Homo sapiens: one gene and its partners. The protein of the gene in region 4 purifies or fractionates together with the protein of the main gene of each other region. This does not show direct contact. Each region holds a gene or a part of one and is shown on either strand. Other genes may lie near its edges. The genes, in order: LRBA, NDE1, PALS1, FAM124A, DIXDC1, ACAD11 and NBEA.

The links.
Region 1: the proteins of FAM124A (region 4) and LRBA purify together in Homo sapiens (affinity purification with mass spectrometry; one large-scale study listed by BioGRID and IntAct). This does not show direct contact.
Region 2: the proteins of FAM124A (region 4) and NDE1 purify together in Homo sapiens (affinity purification with mass spectrometry; one large-scale study listed by BioGRID and IntAct). This does not show direct contact.
Region 3: the proteins of FAM124A (region 4) and PALS1 purify together in Homo sapiens (co-immunoprecipitation; 2 studies listed by BioGRID and IntAct, with this or other methods). This does not show direct contact.
Region 5: the proteins of FAM124A (region 4) and DIXDC1 purify together in Homo sapiens (affinity purification with mass spectrometry; one large-scale study listed by BioGRID and IntAct). This does not show direct contact.
Region 6: the proteins of FAM124A (region 4) and ACAD11 purify together in Homo sapiens (affinity purification with mass spectrometry; one large-scale study listed by BioGRID and IntAct). This does not show direct contact.
Region 7: the proteins of FAM124A (region 4) and NBEA purify together in Homo sapiens (affinity purification with mass spectrometry; one large-scale study listed by BioGRID and IntAct). This does not show direct contact.

The regions. Positions count from the first base shown.
Region 1 is NC_000004.12:151,008,785-151,012,284, reverse strand, and holds part of LRBA (lipopolysaccharide-responsive and beige-like anchor protein), read left to right. Parts: intron 1-3,500. UniProt on the Homo sapiens protein: Involved in coupling signal transduction and vesicle trafficking to enable polarized secretion and/or membrane deposition of immune effector molecules. Involved in phagophore growth during mitophagy by regulating ATG9A trafficking to mitochondria.
Region 2 is NC_000016.10:15,653,245-15,656,744, forward strand, and holds part of NDE1 (nuclear distribution protein nudE homolog 1), read left to right. Parts: intron 1-3,500. UniProt on the Homo sapiens protein: Required for centrosome duplication and formation and function of the mitotic spindle. Essential for the development of the cerebral cortex.
Region 3 is NC_000014.9:67,328,435-67,331,934, forward strand, and holds part of PALS1 (protein PALS1), read left to right. Parts: intron 1-3,500. UniProt on the Homo sapiens protein: Plays a role in tight junction biogenesis and in the establishment of cell polarity in epithelial cells.
Region 4 is NC_000013.11:51,228,898-51,232,397, forward strand, and holds part of FAM124A (protein FAM124A), read left to right. Parts: intron 1-2,450; coding exon 2,451-2,482; intron 2,483-3,500.
Region 5 is NC_000011.10:111,943,843-111,947,342, forward strand, and holds part of DIXDC1 (dixin), read left to right. Parts: intron 1-3,500. UniProt on the Homo sapiens protein: Positive effector of the Wnt signaling pathway; activates WNT3A signaling via DVL2. Regulates JNK activation by AXIN1 and DVL2.
Region 6 is NC_000003.12:132,635,810-132,639,309, forward strand, and holds part of ACAD11 (acyl-CoA dehydrogenase family member 11), read right to left. Parts: intron 1-3,500. UniProt on the Homo sapiens protein: Acyl-CoA dehydrogenase, that exhibits maximal activity towards saturated C22-CoA.
Region 7 is NC_000013.11:34,945,270-34,948,769, forward strand, and holds part of NBEA (neurobeachin), read left to right. Parts: intron 1-3,500. UniProt on the Homo sapiens protein: Binds to type II regulatory subunits of protein kinase A and anchors/targets them to the membrane. May anchor the kinase to cytoskeletal and/or organelle-associated proteins.

The DNA of each region.
Region 1 (3,500 bases), on a different chromosome or scaffold from region 4:
AATCCAAATTCTATAGCAGCATTTGCTTATACGCTTCCTAGAACTGTAGACCTGGTATAGATTTTAAGGTCATTGGTTAAGTCCTTCAAAGCTGCGTATTTGCAGGATAGTAGGTGCCTGGATAGAAGGAGAGAGAAGAGTCTGTTCAGTTAGTTACCCTCCTCTTCAATATCATTCGCTTGTCAGGTAGGGCAGGAAAAGTTGCTGAGAATATTAGGTAGCAGTTTCTCCCCTTCCATTGTCCCTTAAAATACTTTTCATGCTCTTTCATGGATTATCTGGGGTTTTGGCCACTCTAGAAAATCTTTGGAAGCAGCTGCGCACAGTGGCTCATGCTTGTAATCCCAGAGCTTTGGGAGGTTCACTTGAGGCCAAGAGTTTGAGACCAGCCTGGGCACTATAGTGAGACCCTGTCTCTACAAAAAAAAAAATTAAATAAAAAATTAGCTGGGCATGGTGGCATATACCTGTGGTCCCAGCTACTTGGGAGGATGAGGTGGGAGGATCCCTTGAGCCCAGGAGTTCGAGGCTACAGTGAGCTACAATCATGCAGAGCAACACCCTGAAAAAAAAAATTAGAACGAAAGTATTGGGATTCTGTAAATTAGTCCATCTCAATGTTGTTAGTACTGCTACACGTAAATATTTCCTAATTGATAGTTAGTCTTTTTTTTTTTTTTTTTTTTTGAGATAGAGTCTCAGTCTGTTGCCCAGGCTGGAGTGCAGTGGTGCAACCTTGCCTCCCTGCAACCTCTGCCTCCTGAGTTCAAGTGATTCTCCTGCCTCAGACTCCCAAGTAGCTGGGACCACAGGCGTGCGCCATGAGGCCCGACTAATTTTTGTATTTTTGGTAGAGGCGGGGTTTCACCATGTTGGCCAGGCTGGTCTCAAAATCTTGACCTCAGGTGATCCACCCGTTCAGCCTCCTGAAGTGCTGGAATTACAGGCTTAAGCCACCACGCCTGGCCTAAATATTAGCTACTTAAACAATAAAGTTTATACTGTTAAAATTGAACAAGTTCCTCTCCTCCAGAGGTGTCCAAATAGTACATGGTAGAGCCATATAACTTTCCAGAGTTTTTTCTCTTTTTTTTTTTTGAGACAGAGTCTTGCTCTGTTGCCTAGGCTGGAGTGCAATGGTGCGATCTCAGCTCACTGCAAGCTCCGCCTCCTGGGTTCATGCCATTCTCCGGCGTCAGCCTCCCAAGTAGCTGGGACTACAGGTGCCCGCCACCACGCCCAGCTAATTTTTTGTATTTTTAGTAGAGACGGGGTTTCACCGTGTCAGCCAGGATGGTCTCGATCTCCTGACCTCGTGATCCGCCTGCCTCAGCCTCCCAAAGTGCTGGGATTACAGGCGTGAACCACTGTGCCCGGCCTTTTTTTTTTTTTTTTTTAATTGAGAGGGAGTCTCACTCTGTCACCCAGGTTGGAGTGCAGTGGTGCGATCTCAGCTCACTGCAACCTCTGCTGCTCGGATTCAAGCAATTCTTGTGCCTCAGCCTCCCCAGTAGCTGGATCTACAGGCACGCACCACCATGCCCGGCTAATTTTTTTGTATTTTTAGTAGAAATTAGGTTTCACCATGTTGGCCAGGCTGGTCTTGAACTCCCGACCTCAGGTGATCTGCCTGCCTTGGCCTTCCCAAAGTGCTGGGATTACAGGTGTGAGCCACCGTGCCTGGCCCAGAGTTTTTTCTTAAGTGCTACCTTCCAACTTTGCTAATGTAGCTTGACCTTAGTCTGTTATAAATTACTTTGAAATTTACTACCCTGTTTATAATTTCTTTTGCAAATCTGTTTTGCAGATAAATTTTGATTAACAGTGCACCAATGTAGTCAAGTGTTTCAAACTTCTGGTCAACTTGTACATTTTTCTTGTTGCAGTTTAAAACATTTTATTTTGTTTTCATCTGTATTTTAAAGTAATTTGTCAAACTTTTAGACCCAGAATAATTAATATATGTTGGCATGTTTTCAGGAACTTGCTGCTGAGTTTAAGGCTTCCATCAGGTATTTAAAGGTATTTAGTGCTACCTAATTCAAGAATAGTGATTCCCATGAGCTGGTGACAAATACATACTTTCATGATTTTTTAAAAAATTTTTGTTAAGTAATTACAGTCACCCCTTGATATGTGGGGGATTGGTTCCAGAACCCCTAGTGGATACCACAATTTTCAGAAGCTCCAGTCTCTTATATAAAATGGTATAGTATTTGCATATAACTTACATGTATCTTCCGTATACTTTAAATCATCTCTTTAAAATTTTTATTTATTTATTTATTTATTTATTTATTTTTTTGAGATGGAGCCTCACTCTGTCCCCCATGCTGGAGTGCAGTGGCGCGATCTCGGCTCACTGCAAGGTCCGCCTCCCAGGTTCACGCCATTCTCCTGCCTCAGCCTCCCAAGTAGCTGGGACTACAGGCACGTGCCACCACGCCCAGCTAATTTTTTGTATTTTTAGTAGAGACAGGGTTTAACCGTGTTAGCCAGGATGGCCTGGATCTCCTGACCTCGTGATCCACCCGCCCTGGCCTCTCAAAGTGCTGGGATTACAGGCGTGAGCCACCGCGCCTTGCTCTGTTGCCCAGGCTTGAGTACAGTGGCTTGATCATAGCTCACTGTAGCCTCAAATTCCTGGGCTTAAGCTGCTCTCCTGCCTCAGTCTCCTGAGTAGCTAGGACTTAGAGGCGTATGCCACCAAAACCCGCTAGTTTTTTTTTTTTTTTTTGAGACAGAGTCTTGCTCCCTCACCAGGCTGGAGTGCAGTGGCGCGATCTTGGCTCAGTGTAACCTCCACTTCCTGGGTTCAAGCAATTCTCCTGCCTCAGCCTCCTGAGTAGCTGGGATTACAGGCGTGTGCCACCACACCCAGCTAATTATTGTATTTTTAGTAGAGACGGGGTTTCACCATGTTGGCCAGGCTGGTCTCAAACTCCTGGCCTCAAGTGATCTGCCTGCCTTGGCTTCCTGAAAATGCTGGGATTACAAGTTTGAGCCACCATGCCCGGCTTTCTCCCATATACTTTAAATCATCTCTAGATTACTTAGAATACCTAATAGAATGTAAATTCTATATAAACAGTTGTACTCTATATTTGAAAATTTGAGCTGGGCACAGTGGCTCATGCCTATAATCCCAGCAGTTTGGGAGGCTGAGGTGGGAGGTCAGAAGTTTGAGGTCAGAAGTTCAACACCAGCCTGTGCAACATAGTAAGACCTTGTCTGTATAAGAAAAAAAAATACCATTTTATATATATATATATATATATATATATATATATATATATTTTTTTTTTTTTTTTTTTTGAGATGGAGTCTCACTCTGCCACCCAGGCTGGAGTGCAGTGGCGTGATCTTGGCTCACTGCAACCTCCGCCTCCCGGGTTCAAGCAATTCTATCTCAGCCTCCTGAGTAACTGGTATTACAGGGATGCACCAGCAAGCCCGGCTAATTTTTGTATTTTTGGTAGAGATGGCGTTTCACCACGTTG
Region 2 (3,500 bases), on a different chromosome or scaffold from region 4:
TTTCCACATTCGTGAATGATGGTGTGCATCTTTGAACATGGGTCCTTGCCTGCCTAAGTATTTTTGTAGGTTGATCATTGTAAACTTGGAAAGCACAAAGACAGAAGCCAGGCTTGCTGACTCTTGACTGATGTTGCCCCAGTGATGTCACTCCTGCAAAATGCAAAGCCTGCGTCCTGGCTGTCGGAGCATGTGTGGACATTTGGCAGCTTCTTTCTCTTCCCTCCTGCTCTTCTGTTTGTTTTGATTGGGAAGGATATGGAGTGGGGATGGAGAAGGGTGTTGAGTAATTATCGATGGTTTCTGTATGTTTATTGCTCCTGACTAGCAGTGCTGGGTTTCTTCTCTCAGAGGAAAGCTGAAAGAGATTGCTTTGCTTTTTTCCAGAGTTTTAAAATCAGAGGTGTGTGTCTCGAGTGTATTTTCAGACTTTTTTGTTAGCTTTAATCATGTAAAACATGCAAAAAAAAAAAAAGCATGTGGAAACAATTTTTTTTTTTTGAGACGGGTTCTCGCTCTGTCACACAGGCTGGAGTGCTGTGGGGCGATCTCGGCTCACTGCAACCACCGCCTCCCATGCTCAAGTGATCCTCCCACCTCAGCCTCCTGAGTAGCTGGGACCACAGGTGTGCATCACCACACCTGGCTAATTTTTTTGTGTTTTTGGTAGAGATGGGGTTTCACCATGTTGCCCAGGCTGGTCTCTTATCTGCTGACCTCAGGTGATCTGCCTGCCTCACCCTCCCAAAGTGCTGGGATTACAGGCATGAGCCACCACACCCGGCCGGAAACAAATTTTTGAAGGAGGCATAGATCTCTGTTGTGCAAAATAGATACTTTTTGTACCACTGGGTCCTAGTTTGTCATTGTTCCTTGCATGATCCCATCAGATTTGTCTACAGAGCTGCTGGGGCATGATGGTGTGGTGGCGTATTAAGAACGCAGGTTAGTGGCACACAGATGAAATAAATGCATGTGGGGTGCATTTTTAAGATAGCAGGTGCAAAGTTGTATATACTGAGACCAGGCATTAACACTTGCCTATTACAGTGCCTTTTAAAACACTATGTGAGGGCCGGGTGCAATGGCTCACACCTGTAATCCCAGCACTTTGGGAGGCCTAGGTGGGCAGATCACCTGAGGTCAGGAGATCGAGACCAGCCTGGCCAACGTGGCGAAACCCCGTCTCTCCTAAAAATACAAAAAATTAGCCAGTCGTGGTGGCATGCACCTGTAATCCGAGGTACTAGGGACGCTGAGGTAGGAGAATCGCTTGAAGCTGCGAGGCAGAGGTTGCAGTGAGCTGAGATCACACCACTGCACTCCAGCCTGGGCAACAGAGAAAGAGATTCCGACTCAAAAAAAAAAAAAACAAAAAAAAAAAAAACAAAACTGGACCAAATGAAACAAGTGAATCTGATCTGCAGTCAGTCAGTTTGCAACCCCTGGGAAGCCTTGGACTTGAATGCAAAGATCCCTTGAACTTGGATCTAGTTTGCCTCTGCTGCTCACATGCACATTTAGAGATGGCCAAGGCATACGGTGTTTCTGCTTCCAAGAAACAGAGTGGTTGTCCTGTTTAGCCATCTCTTACAGTCACACAGCTTAAAGAAGATAATGTTTGCAAACAATTTTTGAAATGTCTAGCACACAGCAAACAGAAGGTCAAATTCAGTACTTAATGCTGATAAAATAAGAGAACCCTTGCAAGTCATGTTGCCTGCTTTCTGCCACAGAGAGTACTGCAATAGAACTTTCTGACGTTTTCATGTTGTTTATTTATTTATTTTTTGAGACAGAGTCTTGCTCTTGTGCCCAGGCTGGAGTGCAGTGGTACAATTTCTGCTCACTGCAACCTCTGCCTCTGGGTTCAAGCAATTCTTGGGCCTCAGCCACCCAAGTAGCTGGAATTATAGGTGCGCTCTACCACACCTGGCTAATTTTTGTGTTTCTAGTAGAGACAGGGTTTCACCATGTTGCCCAGGCTGGTCTTGAACCCCTGGGCTCAAGCAATCCACCCACCTCAGCCTCCCAAAGTGCTGGGACTACAGGCGTGCATCGTGACGCCCTGCTGATTTGTGTATTTTTAGTAGAGACGGGGTTCACCTTGTGCTGGTCTCAAACTCCTGGGCTCAAGCAATCTGCCCACCTCAGTCTGCCAAAGTGCTGGGATTACAGGCGTGAGCCATCGTGCCCGGCCTCTCTCTGACATTTTTGAATGGCAAAGGCAAAAATCTTATACTTTTAAGGATGTGGAGAAATAGGAACACTTTTACACTGTTGGTGGGACTGTAAACTAGTTCAACCATTGTAGAAGTCAGTGTGGTGATTCCTCAGGGATCTAGAACTGGAAATACCATTTGACCCAGCCATCGCATTACTGGGTATATACCCAAAGGACTATAAATCATGCTTCTATAAAGACACATGCACACGTATGTTTATTGCGGCATTATTCACAATAGCAAAGACTTGGAACCAACCCAAATGTCCAGCAATGATAGACTGGATTAAGAAAACGTGGCACATATACACCATGGAATACTATGCAGCCATAAAAAATGATGAGTTCATGTCCTTTGTAGGGACATGGATGAAATTGGAAATCATCATTCTCAGTAAACTATTGCAAGAACAAAAAACCAAACACCGCATATTCTCACTCATAGGTGGGAATTGAACAACGAGAACACATGGACACAGGAAGGGGAACATCACACTCTGGGGACTGTTGTGGGGTGGGGGGAGGGGGGAGGGATAGCATTGGGAGATATACCTAATGCTAGATGACGAGTTAGTGGGTGCAGCACACCAGCATGGCACATGTATACATATGTAACTAACCTGCACATTGTGCACATGTACCCTAAAACTTAAAGTATAATAATAATAAAGAAAAAGAAAAAAAAAGATTGCTGTTTTATGATAAAGTGAAGTGCAGCTGTTACTTCTTCCTTCTTTGCTTCCAGCATCTCTCTTCCCTAAGGATTGCTTTTAAAATGTAAGAGTTTTTGGTTGAAATGCTGTTCCTGTGGTTTTTGTCTCTTGGTTGGAGTGAAAGATTTTGCAGGCTGTGATACAAATCCAGTTCTCTGCTTATTTTCTCCTCAGTCCTTGAAATCCAAAACCAGATCCCTCCCATTGGCCCGTTGTAATTAGAACCTGCCCCACAATAGACGCACCTCCTAAAGCATCTCAGATTCATTTCTTTCCTGAGGATTAAGTTTTTAAACCTTCCTGGCCAAGATAACAGTGTTTTAAGAGGCTCTTTTCTTTTATTATTATTATTATTATTATTACTCTTTTCTTTTTTTGAGATGGAGTCTTGCTCTGTCACCCAGGCTGGAGTGCAGTGGCAGGATCTCTGCTCACTGGAACCTCCACCTCCCGGGTTCAAGAGTTTCTTCTGTTTCAGCCTCCTGAGTAGATGGGATTACAGGCATGTGCCACCATGCCCAGCTAATTTTTGTATTTTTAGCAGAGATGGGGTTTTACCATGT
Region 3 (3,500 bases), on a different chromosome or scaffold from region 4:
CTATTCACTCTGATGGTAGTTTCTTTTGCTGTGCAGAAGCTCTTTAATTAGATCCCATTTGTCAATTTTGAGTTTTGTTGCCATTGCTTTTGGTGTTTTAGTCATGAAGTCCTTGCCCATGCCTATGTCCTGAATGGTATTGCCTAGGTTTTCTTCTAGGGTTTTTCTGGTTTTAGGTCTAACATTTAAGTCTTTAATCCATCTTGAATTAACTTTTGTATAAGGTGTAAGGAAGGGATCCAGTTTCAGCTTTCTACATATGGCTAGCCAGTTTTCCCAGCACCATTTATTAAATAGGGCATCCTTTCCCCATTTCTTCTTTTTGTCAGGTTTGTCAAAGATCAGATGGTTGTAGATGTGTGGTATTATTTCTGAGGGCTCTGTTCTGTTCCATTGGTCTGTATCTCTGTTTTGGTACCAGTAGCATGCTGTTTTGGTTACTGTAGCCTTGTAGTATAGTTTGAAGTTGGATAGGGTGATGCCTTCAGCTTTATTCTTTTGGCTTAGGGTTGTCTTGGCAATGCAGGCTCTTTTTTGGTTCCATATGAACTTTAAAGTAGTTTTTTCCAATTCTGTGAAGAAAGTCATTGGTAGCTTGATGGGGATGGCATTGAATCTATAAATTACCTTGGGCAGTATGGCCATTTTCACAATATTGATTCTTCCCATCCATGAGCATGGAATGTTCTTCCATTTGTTTGGTCCTCTTTTACTTGGTTGAGCAGTGGTTTGTAGTTCTCCTTGAAGAGGTCCTTCACATCCCTTGTAAGTTGGATTCCTAGGTATTTTATTCTCTTTGTAGCAATTGTGAATGGGAGTTCACTCATGATTTGGCTCTCTCTTTGTCTGTTATTGATGTATAGGAATGCTTGTGATTTCTGCACATTGATTTTGTATCCTGAGACTTTGCTGAAGTTGCTTATCAGCTTAAGGAGATTTTGGGCTGAGACGATGGAGTTTTCTACATGTACAATCATGTCATCTGCAAACAGGGATAATTCGACTTCCTCTTTTCCTAATTGAATACCCTTTATTTCTTTCTCCTGCCTGATTGCCCTGGCCAGAACTTCCAACACTGTGTTGAATAGGAGTGGTGAGAGAGGGCATCCCTGTCTTGCGCCAGTTTTCAAAGGGAATGCTTCCAGTTTTTGTCCATTCAGTATGATATTGGCTGTGGGTTTGTCATAAATAGCTCTTATTATTTTGAGATACGGCGGACGCATCACTTGAGGCCAGGAGTTCGAGACCAGCCTGGGCAACATAGTGAAATCCTGTCTCTACTAAAAATACAAAAAACATTAGCCAGGCATGGTGGTGCACGCCTGTGGTACTGGCTACTGAAGAGGCCGAGTTCGTGCTACTGCACTCCAGCCTGGGCAACACAGCAAGACTTGGTCTCAAAAATAAATAAATAAATAAATAAATAAATAAATAAATAAATAAATAGATATAGAAACTAAGAAGATGATGGTGTTACTCACTGGATGCAAAATGTAACCAACCAGTTATGTAATTGTACTCTGAATCTGTTCTTCTAGTATTGTGAAAGAATGGTATTGGCATAAAGATGTGATTTTTTTCTTGTATGTATTGTTAAAGTCACAGAAAATCATCTATATTGTGGTAAGAGAGAATATATGCCAGACAAATGCTCTGCTGTCTGTCAGAAAGAGGAATAAAGACACAATCTGGAACCAGGAAATAAATAATAATAATAATAATTATTATTATTATTATCAAAAGGAATAATCAGACACTTTAGCAAAAGAAATAAGTTGGAGGGCATTTGTCTTTATTGTCTCTTTTCTATTTAATTCATTTCTTTTTATGCTTTCTTTGACTATAATTTGCACTTGCTTTAGTTTCTCAAGATGAATGCTTAATTTTTAAACTCTTCTTTTCAAATGTAGGCATTTGAAATTATAAATTTCCCTCGAAACAGTTCTTTAGTTGCATCCCGTAAGTTTTGGCATTGTATTTTTGTTACCATTTTGTTAGAAGTATTTTCTAATTTCCCTTCATTTTTTTTTTTTTTTTTTTTGAGATGGGGTTTCGCTCTTGTTGCCCAGGCTGGAGTGCAGTGGCACTATCTCTGCTCACTGCAACCTCTGCCTCCCGGGTTCAAGCAATTCTCTTGCCTCAGCCTCCCGAGTAGCTGGGATTATAGGCATGCACCACCACGCCCAGCTAATTTTGTATTTTTAGTAGAGATGGGGTTTCTCCATGTTGGTCAGGCTGGTCCCAAACTCCCGACCTCAGGTGATCCACCTGCCTCAGCCTTCCAAAGTGCTGGGATTATGGGCCTGAGCCCCCGGCACCCCGCTTCCTTGTTTTTCTCTTTAACACATGAGTTATTTAGAAGTATGTTATATAGTTTCCACCTATTTGGAGATGTGAAAAAGATTTTAACTGATTTATAATTCCAGGTGGTCAGACCCTGAAAGATGTCAGTCTTTTCAAATTTGTTGAGCCTTATTTTATGGCCCAACATCTGTTCTTTCTTGGTGAATGTTCTGTGCACACCTGTTAGGATGTGTATTCCACAGTTTTTGGTGTAGAGGATGGTGTATCTGATTGTATTTATTCTACTTAAGTTTTTTTCTCCTGTGATATTTCTTTCTTTTTTTTGAGACAGAGTCTCACTCTGTCGCCCAGGCTGGAGTGCAGTGGCACAATCTTGGTTCACTGCAACCTCTGCTTCCTGGGTTTAAGTGATTCTCATGCCTCAGCCTCCCAAGTAGCTGGGATTACAGATGTGCACCATCACGCCTGGCTATTTTTTGTATTTTTAATAGAGACGGGGTTTTGCCCTGTTGGCCAGGCTGGTCTCAAGCTCCCGGCCCCATGTGATCCACCTACCTTGGCCTCCCAAAGTGCTGAGATTACAGGCGGGGGAGCCCCTGCGCTGGTATTGGTATTTCTAATAGTGCTTTATTACTCAATGATAGAAGTGCTGAAGTAAAACAGATTTTCAATTTTAACTCTATAAAATTGTGCTAAGAAAATGATGGCGTTACAAAATGTAACCAACCGGTTATCTAGTTGCATTCTGAATCTCTGAATCTGTTCTGCTAGTATGAAGGCTTGAGAGTGGCTATCTAGCAGTATGAACTTATTGTCAGTTTTGCCTAGTTCAGCTAAAAATTTTGAGCTAAAACATTTTGTTTCATCTTAGTCGTGGATTGTAATTTGAAAGAGAACTTCAGACATGAAGTACTAAATAAGTGATATAAGCCATTTTGGCACAAAATGGAATAACAATGCCTTAAATTTGATAAAAACTAGGTGGATTCGGGCTTTATCATTTTCATTTCAACTCCAATACCACAAAGTTTCAGTTCTCTGTGGAGTCCTAGAATGTTCTTCCAATAATCTTGAGCTTACGGTAGACATAAGTTTTAGCAAAAATGTCAGTGTGTTCAGTTACAGTGGTGAAGTAGATTCCCTGCTGGGAACAAAGGATTCTGTGTGCCATATTCAGATGTACAACATTCCAGAAT
Region 4 (3,500 bases):
GCCGTGTGTTTTGTAAAGGTGAACAACCAGGAGCGATCATTTAGCCAACAAAAGGGTTGAATAAATTATAGTGTATTAATTTAAAATGATAATTACAGGAAATGTGTAGCAGCATGTTATGATGGTATCAAGTGAAAAGAGCAATTCAAAATTGTGTCTCCATCATTATGGCAACTGTGTACAAATTGCATATACTGAGGATCAGAGGCTGGAGAGCAGTGGGAGGCTGTAGGTGACTTTCTGTGTGTTTCCGTTGTGACGGTGGACCCGGGTGAAAGTTGGACAGCAGAGCTGGGCCATCCGTCACGGAGAGAGGGGTTTGTGTTTTACACTAGCGAGCTTGAATTTCATCCAGAGAGAGACATGATCAGATTTATCCTTTGCAAAGATTGGCTGCTGTATGTGGAGGGAACTGCAGCAGGATCAGCGTGATTGTCAGAAGGCTGACCATTCGGCGGGCCCAACCCGGTGGTGCCCTTAGTCTCTAGAAACGTGGAGGGACTCATAGAGGGGCATCAGTTATGCCAGCACCTGTCCCAAGACACTAAAATACTGTTGCACTTTAAGATTCTTGAACTATGTTTCAAGTGTAAATTTCATTCTACATACATATCCATCTGTATGCAGATCTTTAAAATGTATGCATATGTGAATCCCATCTGCTTCAAGAGAATTTGGAAAATCCTAGCTGAAAATACACATTTTAAAGAATAAAAGAAATAGAAATATCGCCATTCTTATTGTGTGTTGTATTTGAATAGTCATGACATTTCTTTAAAGTCTGTCCATCTTAAGATGATTTTATTGTAATCAAGTTGTTTTCCTGTTGCATCTACCACAGTGGATATTTGCTGAGCAGTCACTAAGTTTATATATAATTACATTTCCAAGTATTGTTCTAAAGTTTATGTCCTGAATGGTTCCAGAAAGAATTTAATGCACCAGTACTGGGTTACAAATCCTGGGCTTCAGAATGTTGCTAATCCTTGACCCTCCCCTCTCTGTTGTCTCCCTTAGCTAGTATGTCACCATGTGCTAGCCAGTCAATCCCTTCTGCCTTCGGAGTCCTTCCTCTCCACCCACCGTGCACACTCAACTTCAGTCACTAATCATTGCTCACCTCCTGGCCTCTGTACAGATAGTATCACTTTAATTTCCTAGTCAATAAAATATTGAATTATATATATATATATGAATGCAGTTTGTAATATATAAAGGGATATGCAAATGTTGGTAGTTGTTATTCTTTCCAGTTTTAAAATTCATTGATTCCATGACTACTAAAGTATTTCATTTGTGAAAGTGAAAACCACATGTTGTTTTCTTCCATTTTGTTCCTCGACCAATAAATCAATGCAGCATTTTGAGTGATGTAGGTTATTTTAATCAGTAAGAGGCATGCTGCTTATGATTTTTTTAAAAAGTTTTGCATGTACTTTTTTAAATGTGGCAAGAAGTTCAATGGAGTGAAAATTGGATGATTCAGGAAAGGCAGCAGGAGACTAAGGAGATAAAAGGAATGTATATCTATAAAATTAAACATAATTAAGCAGTTTATTTGCATAACTTCGTCCCCTAACTTCCATGGCAGAATAAATCCCTACGTGCTAAAGTGATTAATTTCCTACTGAGAATGACTTTGGGACACTAGGGGAAGAAAATAAGTAGCTTCCATATCAAATTTGTTGCCAGAGAGGAAAGTCTTAACAGCTACAGAAGTAGGGCAGAAACTTACTAGAGATTAAGCAGATCCTTGGCCAGAGCCCCACTCTTACGGAGGCTGAATGCCAGCAGCTGATTTCTCAGCATAGAAACTGAAAGGGCGATTTCACCCCAGCCTTAGCCTGCCTTTTCCCTTTCCCGATCACAGCTCACATCCTGTTACTCTAATATCCAGCAGGCTTTCTTCTCAGATGGAACTGAAATCAGTGGAAATATCATTGTGCCTTTGTTTCCTGGTGGTCAGCCCCACCTTGAATGTGGAAACCTTCGCAGCTGAGGTTCCCTCTCTCCTCGCGCTGGGATCCTCTGCTTATGTTAGCAAAGAACATTTCCCCATGGTGTTGTGCGAATATTTGAAGGGTGCTCATTTGCAGTAACCTTTGGAGTGAATCTGTGAGTGGTGAATCTGTTGAAAACTTTGGGGCTTCTCCCCAGAGAAATAACCATTCAATATTTTTGCTAAACCTTTAGATGGCTTCTTCCAAACCTCATCAGAGGAATTTGCAGAACTCACATGAGAGCCCCCAGAATTCTAAAGTTCCTTTAAAGTTTTCTTTCAAATTCAGACATAACTTTATTTTGCATAAAATGAGCCTTAGCACTGCAGTTTTTAATTGGTGACATTTCTTTACCAGCTAAATGCTACTTACCACTGACTGTTTAAAATTCTGGCTTGAATAAATCATTTGGATAAAGAATTCTACTAACGCTGAGGTCTTGTGTTTCAGGTCCGACTACAGCCACCTGTCCTCCACGAGCAGTAAGTATCTTTTAAACATCCTTCAGCATTGTCTAACGGTCCCCGGAGAGGTCAGTACCCTAGAGGCCATGTGTGTACATGGTTTTATAGTAGGTAAGAATCACCAAAGCATCTTTGCCAAAGAATGTGGTACAGGATGCTGTAACTCTGGAAGTGGAGGCTTTTCCTGGAGAATCTGATCATACAGAAATTCAGCCTGAAGGATGTAACCCAGGCTTTATCAGCTGCTTGTGGATGCTTCTAGGAGCATCATCTCTGAAGAATCTGAGGTAGCGCTTTCATTGAACAAACATCTATCAGATACCTGCTACCCTCAGGCAAACAGAAAGCTCAGAGCACAATTCCTGGATCCCTGCAGTTGCTCCAGCTCATCTCTTGCAAAATCTCTTCCCTTGCATGTCTGCATCTGCAGGCAAATATCCTTCCCTCTCCAATGGAGGGAACATCTATCTCTGGCAAAATCCTGCGAAGTGTGTTAACAGTTGGAACAGTTATAGCTAAAGTGGAAAAGTGATAGCTAAATTCCCTAATTATAACCTACATTGGTTATACATGCCAATACATATGTACCAATACGTATGCACATTGATATACATATATATCAGTATGTATAACCGATGTAGGTTGTAATTAGGGAATTTAGCTATTACTTTTCCACTTAAATGTGGCTAAAAGAATACAGACATTTTTATCAATCCATCATCCTGTATTTGTAATTCCTGGCTTATAAGTGGTTATTATATGCAGCAGAAAATGATCAGGAATATGTTTACAAAGACACTCTGGTTATTAAAAAGGTGCTTATATTTAATATTAAAGTACAGGTAAATTTACTCATGAGAAATTATGCCTCATAACTAGAAAGAATTGAGAGTGATTAAGATTACTACATAAATGACCAAAGCCATTCAGATTGATTGAATACTTATTTTAAATTAACAAAAGTAATTGTCTTAATATAAAGGCCCTGATTGTTTAAATCAGTAAATATTAAATTGTTTTGCCCTATCTCACTAGC
Region 5 (3,500 bases), on a different chromosome or scaffold from region 4:
CCATGGGTGGTTGAAACTGTGGAAAGAAAAACTATGGGTAAGGGAGACTTCTGTACAAAGAACCTGTCCATGAAAGGAAGAAGAAATTCAAGGATATTTTTACTTGTGAACTTTATTTGTACCCAATTAGCCATCAAATTCAATGAACAAATAGCTTTTGCAGGTTCAGTAAAGGGCTGAAAGAGTTAATAGAAAAGAAATACAATAGGGTGTTTACTGGCAGAATTTAGGCCAATAATAACATAAGGTTTTTAAATCTCTAGCCTTGCTCTTAGTTTCTCAGCAACTTCCCCACCCTCATCTCCTCATCTTCTGCTGCTGGAGGGTCTCAGAGTTCTAAACAGGTATCTGGTTTCACTGTAAAACTAATTTCCTTCCTGAGCCATTCATGTCTCCTCCTGAACTGTCTCTCTAGCATACCACAAAAGCTCTCTGCTTTTCTTGTTTGCTTTTCTTGTTGCCAGCAGGAAAACATAGAGTCGCCTCCTTGGCTGTTTCTGCTCTAAGAACAGTAGATACCACATACTTCCCTGGTGAAGCCCCATTGGTGCTTTCGCAACTCTAGCAAATAAGTCCCCTGCAGGAATTCTGTGAGCTTGAGTCTTGGAGGAGATAGAGAACTGAGGCTCGGCTTACAAACCTGTTTGGAAGGAAGGGCAGGTCCCAAAGAAAAACAGGAAGAAGGTTACATTTGGTGGCAAGAAAGCTTTCAAGGTCAAGATTTCCTGCACAAATGAAGATTTTGGATGGAATTGTGTATACTAGAAGACTTTTACCTAAAATCATAGGGTTATTTGGAGTGTCTTGGAGGAAGCTGATGGAGATTATGGGATTGCTAAAGCCTCCTTCCACCGGCCACCTCGTGGTACTATCACTGCTCTCACAACTTTAGAGGGGTCCAGTCTCATCAAGCCAAAATCCTTCTCAGACAGTTTTAACTCTTGTTATGTCTACTGACTGACTTCTTCTGAGGCCTGACTCAGAGGGTGGTTACCATGAAAACCTTCAGTTGTTCTAGACATTTATTACACTGGCATCCTTTTAGCTTCCTTAGAACAAATTAGTCATGAAACTCCAGACTGAGATTAGTTCAACACTGTTACACACGTAGTATGTACCAACTGTCTTGGTCTTTTTTAAAAAATTAGTTCGGTTACAAGTGCCAAAAACCCAACTTGAACTAGCAGGGATAGGAAGTGGACGTTATTGACTCATGGAATCCAAGGAAAGGCAGAAAAACTAAACCATGGAAAGGGCAGGGATGCAGCAGAAACAATGAAATCAAGAACTCTGACACTGGCAGGATCTCTTCCTCTGTTCTCTGCCTCTTGTCTGCTTCTTTCTATGCTGGCTTTATTCCCATTTACTAGAGCTGGTTTTTCCTTCTCAGGTGGGCAGCATGGCCTATGGCAACGTCTAAGTTTTATATCTTACAACTTTGAGAGAGATGAGGGAGGAGGAGGAAGACTGATTCTATTCCTAAATGCCAGTTCAGAAAGTTCCAGGGATTGGCTGGCTTTCACCAATCAACTTTGGCAGACCAATCAAGTGTGACCAGTGGAGGGGGTGATACAATACCAACCTGGTCATAGGACCCACCACTGTGTGCACAGAGGAGGGTTCTTAAAGAAGAGGGAATCATTGTGGGCTGGGCAGCTACCCCAGGAGCTGTTAGCTACACTATCACTGTAAGCCTAGCTGGAATCTGATCATTCCTACTTTGCCTCTCTTGACCAAGATCCAGGGTCATAATCAAAATATAATTCTTTTTTTTTTTAATTGTTATGCGAAAGAGCTTCATTTATTTGTTTAGTTTTCTGACTTTGTGCTGGTGTGTTCAATACTTTTTCTTTTCCTGAATAAGGAAGGCACGCTTGGTTCTGTCACAGACACATTTAGTACACATAGAACAACCACAGGCCTTGCTGACATGGATTTTTTTTTGAGACAGAGTCTTGCTCTGTTGCCCAGGCTGGAGTGCAGTGGCACGATCTCAGCTCCCTGCAACCTCTGCATCCTGGGGTCAAAGGATTCTTGTGCCTCAGCCTCCCAAGTAGCTGGAATTACAGGCATACACCACCAGCCCGGTTAATTTTTTTTTTTTTTTTTTTTGAGATGGAGTCTCGTTCTGTCGCTCAGGCTGAAGTGCAGTGGCACGATCTTGGGTCACTGCAAACTCCGCCTCCTGGGTTCAAGTGATTCTCCTGCCTTAGCCTCCCAAGTAGCTGGGATTATAGGCGCCTGCCACCACGCCCGGCTAATTTTTGTATTTTTTTTTTTTTTTGAGATGGAGTCTTGCTCTTTCGCCTAGGCCGGACTGCAGTGGTGCGATCTCGGCTCACTGCAAGCTCCGCCTCCTGGGTTCCCGCCATTCTCCTGCCTCAGCCTCCCTAGTAGCTGGGACCACAGGCGCCTACCACTGTGCCCGGCTAATTTTTTGTATTTTTAGTAGAGACGGGGTTTCACCGTGTTAGCCAGGATGGTCTCGATCTCCTGACCTCATGATCCGCCCGCCTTGGCCTCCCAAAGTGCTGGGATTACAGGCTAATTTTTGTATTTTTATTAGAAATGGGGCTTTGCCATGTTGGCCAGGCTGGTCTCGAACTCCTGACCTCAAGCTATCTGCCCACCTTGGCCTCCCAAAGTGCTGGGATTACAGGTGTGAGCCACTGCACCTGGTCAGTTTTTTTGTATTTTTAGTAGAGACGGAGTTTTGCCATGCTGGCCAAGCTAGTCTGTAATTGCTGGCCTCAAGTGATCTGCCTACCTCAGCCTCCCAAAGTGCTAGAATTACAGGCATGAGCCACTGCACCCAGCCAACATGTTTTTTTTCCTTTGTTTATTTTGGAGAACCTCTTAAGAACTTTAGGTGTCACAGCAGGAACTCATTGAAGTCGGCCTGGGCACACGCCACATGCAGATTTTGGTGTTTTCCCAACCTTCTTGGTATGAAGGTAAACAGTTCTGTGAACAGGGATTTGGGACAGCCTAATTTTGTTAGAGGCTGTATTGCAGAAAAGCCTACAATGGTATGCCAAATGCTGGACCATTCTGAGTGCCTATGGACACTGTCCCCAGAATAAGCAAGATCTATTTCTCAATATTCCAGATATTTCCATTTTGCTGAGCCTGTTGTATCTTTTTGTCACTGAATAATAGACTTGTAAAATGATAGTGTTAGAAGGAAACAAAATGCAGTTTTTTTTTTCTTTTGGTGTTTATATTTGTTTTGGTTCTTGTTTTCAGCTGCTGTGTGAAGCCCTTAAATTACTTTAGATGGCTGGAGAGTAGGGGTGGGGGCTTGAGGGTGGAGAAACACAGGAAGAGTGAGCTGGGTTTTGGACTCCTGACCCTGGCCTAATCAGAGAAGCACTGCTTTTCCCTATTTTACATATCTGCTTCTTACACAAGTTATAATTTTAAAAAATAATGAGGCCAAAAAAAATGAAGAAATGAAACTACTAGTCCACCTTTCAGAGAGTAACAGCCTCCTGTAAAAG
Region 6 (3,500 bases), on a different chromosome or scaffold from region 4:
CTTTCTCTATGACTTTATAAGAGCTTTTATTGTGGTTATATTATACTATAAATTTATAATATTATAAGTATTATAAATTACTATACTAGCTAGATTTGTGAAACTACTGAAGAGGATGGATGCATTTTTCTCTTACATCATTCTATTTGTTATCTATGCTTTTAACATCCAAAGTAAAGATGAGGCACTTACTTATGCTATAAATGATTACTTTTCTTTTTTAATACAATTGGGAAACTTCTCTGGAGTTACTTTTCAGAATATCTGAACCATTTTTGGGGTAAAAACACAAAGCTATAAAACAACAGCCAGTGAGAAAAGCTGATGGCTCATCAAATTGCATAAATTAGTGCAAATTAATTAGCAATAGCTAATTAGAGTCCTGTTGATGCCTGTTTGTGTTGAGAGTTATTAAAAGCTCAACATAACTTTTAGTGGTTGATCTGGACATTTACTAGTTCGTCTTACTGCTGCTAGGGAACTTATTAGTAAAATTATTTTTGATAGTTTTTCTGAAACCTCAGCTCAACAGAAAGCTTTTAGTTTTTTAAATTATCTTCTTTATAAAGAGATTCATTTTATGTATACTTTTTACACCATTGAATTTTATTAATATGTATGTGTATTGGCATTCGAAACAAACAAAAAATACATACAATCCAACAGAACAAACAGTAGATGAAGAAGGCAGGGAAGAAAATAATAGAATTTGTAATGAAAAGATGAAGCTAGGAGTAAGGTTATTACACATAATTGAATGTGATAGGACATGCATAGTTGTTAGTGTGGGTAGTAAAATTTGCTTTGAATTTTATAGCGGGTAAAATAAAGTGTGAAGCATGGTCAGTCACAATCTTTATAGTGTATGCAGGTCAAAAACAAACCAGCTGCTCAAGAGGGACAAATTTTCTTGGCAATGAGGCTAAAGAAAAATATCACCCATCAATCTGCATACAGGTGATATTGTGTAGCGGACGAAAATGTCTTCAACAATATAAAGAGAACTTTGAGGGGCATGGTGTAATTCCTAGAAAGCAGGCTATGCTGGAAAATGACTGAAAGGACAAAGATGAGTTAGGTAGAAGACAAGACCACATGCTGAGAGTGGGAACCGAGATGGGACAAGAAATGTGAGAGTTTGAGAAGAAGGGAAAAGATTTAGAAAAGCCATTTTTTAAATGTCACAGGTTTTACTAAGAGATGAAGTTACAGCCTAGATAAAATCATGTGGCATAAAAATGTCCCAGATCCAATTAACCTTACTTCACGACTTTATTCTGCAGCAAAAATATGAGGATTCAAGTTTAGGGCTAGAAACTGGTTAAAGTCAAGGGGTGATGGACATCCCCTGTAGGGTTATTAGAAAAAATAAAAAGTAAAATAATAATAATAATGATGATATAAAGTCAGGGTGGGAAGATTCTAGAATAATAAGTAACCTAAGGTCAGGACACTTTATAATTCTTACATTACTTGCATACATCTATAGTCAAAAAATTATTAATGAAATTGATACTAAAGGTAGTTTTTGAGATGACTGATTATGACCATGTGGCTTATGTAGGATAAGAAGTCAAGTGAAGTCATGAAGGGCTTATGGATTCTAAATTAACAGCAATCAAATTTGCAGTGTCTCAGGGAAGATGCAGAGAAATAAAAGAACAGAAGGTAAAGAGGGTGAGGTCAAAAATAAGGGGTTTCAATTTCTAGATCACTGAAGTTGACAAGTTCCAATGGATGTTTCTAATTAAATATATTTTTCAAGTTGAAATGACAATATGCAGATTTTACATTAAACTCCAAGATCTTAAACATTTCTCTACTGGTAAAATTTATATTTGGAAAATCAACATTTTCCAGGAAAACTGGATTTCTTTTCAACATTGCAGTGAGCCTATTGTGCTACTGAAATACTTGCCCAAACATGCTTTAAATACTTTGTAAATAAGTAACAGAAAATAATTTCGTTTTGCCATATCCTGTAGTTTCCTTTACTGGCTTACTCCACACATTCCTGGAAGGTTTGTCATTTAAAATTGTTTATTCTTCTTTCTTAATTGTTGTGTTTTCTGATGACAAAAATTAAACATGCTGTTGTTTTAAAAATAAAAACCAAAAAACATCAAACCCTAAACATTACAGAAATGTACAATTATGTCTCCTATAATTCTATCCCCTACAACCACTGTTTAGGTTTTCGTACATATTATGAAGCATTTACTTATACCCTAATATTTTTCTGAAGAAGCTTGACAAGTAGTCTAAGAAAAGTCAGAGAGAAAAATGAAGGGGAAAAAATGGAAAAATGAGGGTACCTGAAATAAACTGAGCATCATTGATGTGCCAGGTACCAGCTAGTTGCTCCACATTGACTGTTTCATTTTAGCTGCCCAGCAACTCAGAATTTTTTTTTTCAATTTTAAAAGGTACACAATGTCAATTTCCTGGCTTTGATAATGTACCATAGTTGTATAATATCCATTTTGCAGAATTTGGATGATGGATACACAGGACTTCTCTGTACTATAACACTGTTACAACTTTTTTGGGGACTCTAATTATTTCAAAACAAAAAGTTAAAATAAAAATAGAGGCACAGAGAGAGATTGAATAACATGCTTTAAGTTCACACTGCTAGGGAATGAAAGTTAAGCATAAATTTATGAGATGGAAATAGTTGCTAGTGAATAATTAACTAAAATTAATCCCTTCAACATAGATTCATCAGAATCATATAAGCACCTGCAATATAAAGATGAATAAGATACAGTCATTGTTTTAAAGGAACTCCAAGTCTAGTGGGTTCTAATTTGTTATCTACTATAGAGACTCAATATTATGTAGACTCGACTAAAATATTAATTAAATGACACAGATCAAATACAGGCCAGATCCTGCTATGTTTTCAGGCATATGCTTTTATAATTATCTAGATTATAAATTAGCATATTTAATTTTTCTAATCTCAGGGTAGATAATTAACAAGGTTAGAATTCAGAATTCATCAGTGCCACTAGCTCTTCCTGCCCTAAAACATCTTAGCATTCTAAGAAACTAATGAACCCAGAAAATCCTCCTCTCAGAAGCAGGATTCATTCCTACTATACTGTAATCCTAGGCCTCATTGTAGGTGCTCAGTGGAGGATTACAGCTTTCATTTGTTTATACTCTTTATAAAGAATACAGTATGCACATTTACATTGAGCAAGGTTATATTAATCTCATGTAATTCTTTTGAAGCCTCAAGAAGCTTTTGGAATTCTCTATTCTCAGAGTTTATAATAAACAAATAATAAATTCTTCATGAGATAGGGCTAAAAACCCCAAAGAAGTATAAATGAACCAGAAAAAACAGCAAGAACATGGATAAGCTAAATATTGTAACTAGTAGATGAAAACTTATTTGAAGAAAACAGCATCATGCATGTAAAATTCCCAAATCCTTTTAAGCAGTAAACCAGATACCACTTGGGATTAGAACCAGTCTCAAAGGTAGGCAG
Region 7 (3,500 bases), about 16 Mb from region 4:
CAAAAGGAGCTGTTTATTACTAAGTTGTTAATTATATTAATTGTGGAGTATAAATTAGTCATTTGAAGTGTAATTTTCTTGAACTGTAGATTTAGGGCTTTATTGTCCAATACACTCATGAAAATGTCATATGAAAATTTAAGTGGATTCTCAAAAATATGTGGAAGTCATGGGCATTTAAAAAACTGATTATCAAACTTAATTCTATTTATTTAGTAAGTAAACCAATAAAATTCATATAGGACACTCAGTGACTCGTTAGAGTTTGGAAACCTTTAATATTAAATCTAAAATGATTTTTTAAAATTTTCAGTTTTAGTTTAACACATTAAATAAAAATGTAAGGTGAAATAGTGAAATACCTATTACTGTGCCCTGAATGACAGAAAAGAAAGGAGAACTAATGAAACTTCAAAAAAAAGAGGAGTTTCTACCTTAAACAATACCTTTGTCTCAGTCGCCTTTGTCAGTATATTTTTCTTTCTTTTTCCTGTTTATTTTTTCTTCCTATGTAAGGATACTCATAAATACTTGGTTTTTAGGTGCTGTTTCTCACATGCCTTGGCCAAAGAATTAAAAGCTGGGCAGAGTGAAGTTTTAAGCATGCACTAAAGTGTAGGACTTCTTCAACAGAGCGGTGGCTGTAATTTTTCTGCTTTGTTTCCCAAAGGTCTAGAGACCTATTTTTACTACTAGGTGGATTGTGGGAGTTTGGTGAGGAATCACCAATGTGATATGATATAAAATTAGTCATTTTTATTAGAGATGTATGTATTTTGTATAATGATGTTATAGTTGACTTAAAACAGTGAAATATGGAATGGATAATGTTAGGAAGGTAGGTAAATTAGTTTGTGAATAAAGTTACAGTCAGAGTGCATTGTCAAGGATTTTGCATTGTAGCTCTACTAATGAAAGAAACTGATCGTTAACAAAGTTTGGCTTCTGGAGGAATTATTTAAAGTGGCAATATAAGAGAATTTAACTACAGAGAAGAGATTTTGTTGATTGTTTTCAGTTGTAAAACTGGCGTACTACCTAATCTATTACTTCTTTTGTAAACACACTTAACATATGTTTATATAAGCTTTATCCATATTTGAAGTAAAAGCTATGTAAGTATCGTGTTATTGTTGCTTATAACATGGAAGTTTCTTTTATAAACATAAATTTCTAGAAAAATATGTTTATAATAGAGGATTAATATTTACTTAGTGAAAGAATTCATAATTTTTTTGGAATGGCTTTCTTATGTGTATAGTATAATTCTATGATTATAATTATGGAATTTAATTATAGACAAATTTTTTATGAATAACTGAATTCATGAAATTTTTTCATGAAATTTTTTCATGGATTTGTAGTTTTTTTTCATGAGTTACAGTGAGTTATATCAGTGTGTCCAGTTGTAGAAAATGATATTTCCTCTGATTTTTTTTTTTTTTTACATTCTAAGTGGCATGCTGTTGGCTGAACTGGAAGCCTAATAAGATGCTTTGAAGGGATTTGTGGTTTACCAAATTTCTCTCATCTTGGCTTATGGATCATGGTATTTTTGTTAAAAGGGTAACTTTAAGGTTTTTTTTTTTTTTGTACTTGAATATGGCAGTAACTCTTCTTCCTTAGAGTTTTTTTAAATTTGCAGCTTGATAGTCATAATTTTCATTTTAAAGATATTTAGAATTTTACAAACAAGGTGTCTTCTGCATTTGAATTATATTTATTTAAAAAATATACAGTTGCATCTTAGAATCATGGAGGTCCTTAATACTAATAAAACCACATTTATATTAAAATAATTTCCTGCATTTTAATTTATGTTGATATATAAGCCTTTTCATATTAATTTGAGTTGTATTTTATTCTCATGATTGGGTATGGAAAATAAAATTCAGGATTCATATGTAAATGCTCGAGGTTTCAATATCTTAAGGAGTTTTGAGATTTTCCTTAGAAATATTAATTTAGTCACATAATGACACTAAGGCAGCAAATATTCTGTGGTCAGTCAACGATCAAGTTATATTAATTTTAAATAAATGTTTTGTGTATTGCTAGCTGCTTTTTGGTAAATACTATGCTGCTAATTAAAAATATCTCAAGGTTCTTTATTCTTTTGCTATACTTTTCCCAAACAGTGTGAAATAATTTATTGGGTCTAACAGACCCAGTGCCCGTTTTGTGTCACTGGTATAGCTGTATTATAAAATTCAGTCACCTGCATTTTTTTTTTAACTATATACTGAACATATTGTTATGCATTAGTTCCAGGTTTTCCATTTCTTGTCTTTATACAATGTCAGCATATCTCTTTGGCATCACATATCACCCTGTAGCATTGCAGTTATTTATGTGTGTTTCCCTTCCTAGGCTGTGAACTCCATGAGGGCAGGAATTGATTTTATGTATATTTATTTTTTGTATTTCTAGGCCTTGGATAAGTTAAGTGCGTTTGTAGTGTGCAGGACACTGTATTAGGCAGTAATGATTATGGTCAGTTTCTGAAGTTATGTTCAACATTACGGTCCAGACTTAGGATCCTGAAATAAACTCATATATAAAGTCAACTCATATAAACTTTATGTATTTCTTATTCCTCAAACTAGAAATATGTGTTCAATGTGTATGATATTACCTGACTGTGTAGGCATTACTGCATATGTAGATGTTATTTTGAACTGGCATCTGTTAGTAAGTTCGAATCTGGTAAAAACTTTTCAGTAAACTTTTATGTATAATCAAATATAATCACATAACAAGGTCATGTTGTTAACAAAGAAAATACGTAATGCATTGAAGAGAAATTGTAGAAAATATTGTTAGCATTTGTCATATTGCCAAGAATAGTGGACATCTCTTGTTTTTGTGTGTCTGGCGTACATGTCACCTCTTTGTAGTGGTACCTCAGTTTTCCTTTGATGACTCACTTATTCCCCATTTGTAGTTCAGCTGGTTTAGGTGGGTCTACCCCACTGCCTGCCTTGAGGGTCAGACATCTAACCTAGGTGTGGCAAGAATTGTGGTGATTGGTTCAGGGACAAACATTTAACCCAAGGGTAGCGAGCCAGAGTAGGTTCCAGGAATTGTGCTGGAAGGCTTTCTGATGGGGATGCTGAATGTGTAAATTCTTAAGAGTTGTAGGTCCCTGTCTTAGAATTTGATCAGGTGTAAAGCAAACAACCTCATGATTCTGTTGGAGAACCTAGAGTTCTTTATGTCTGTGGTGATTATCTTCTAACCATTAAATTATCTCCTTTAAAATTTACTATTGTTATTTATTTCAAATCAGTGTAAGTTGGGTTTTTTGTCACTTGTAAATAGAAGGAATCCCCAGTAACATAGACATTAGTATCTGGAAATGACACATTGTAGGAAACAGACCTTAGATTTTGAAATGGAGTGGAAGGCAGTGAGAACTTTGTGGTCCTCTAGCAGTTCCGTTTTACAGAGCAGCTGTTTAAATTGTCACCTGTGTTATCTTTGTCAATGGAACTACTGAG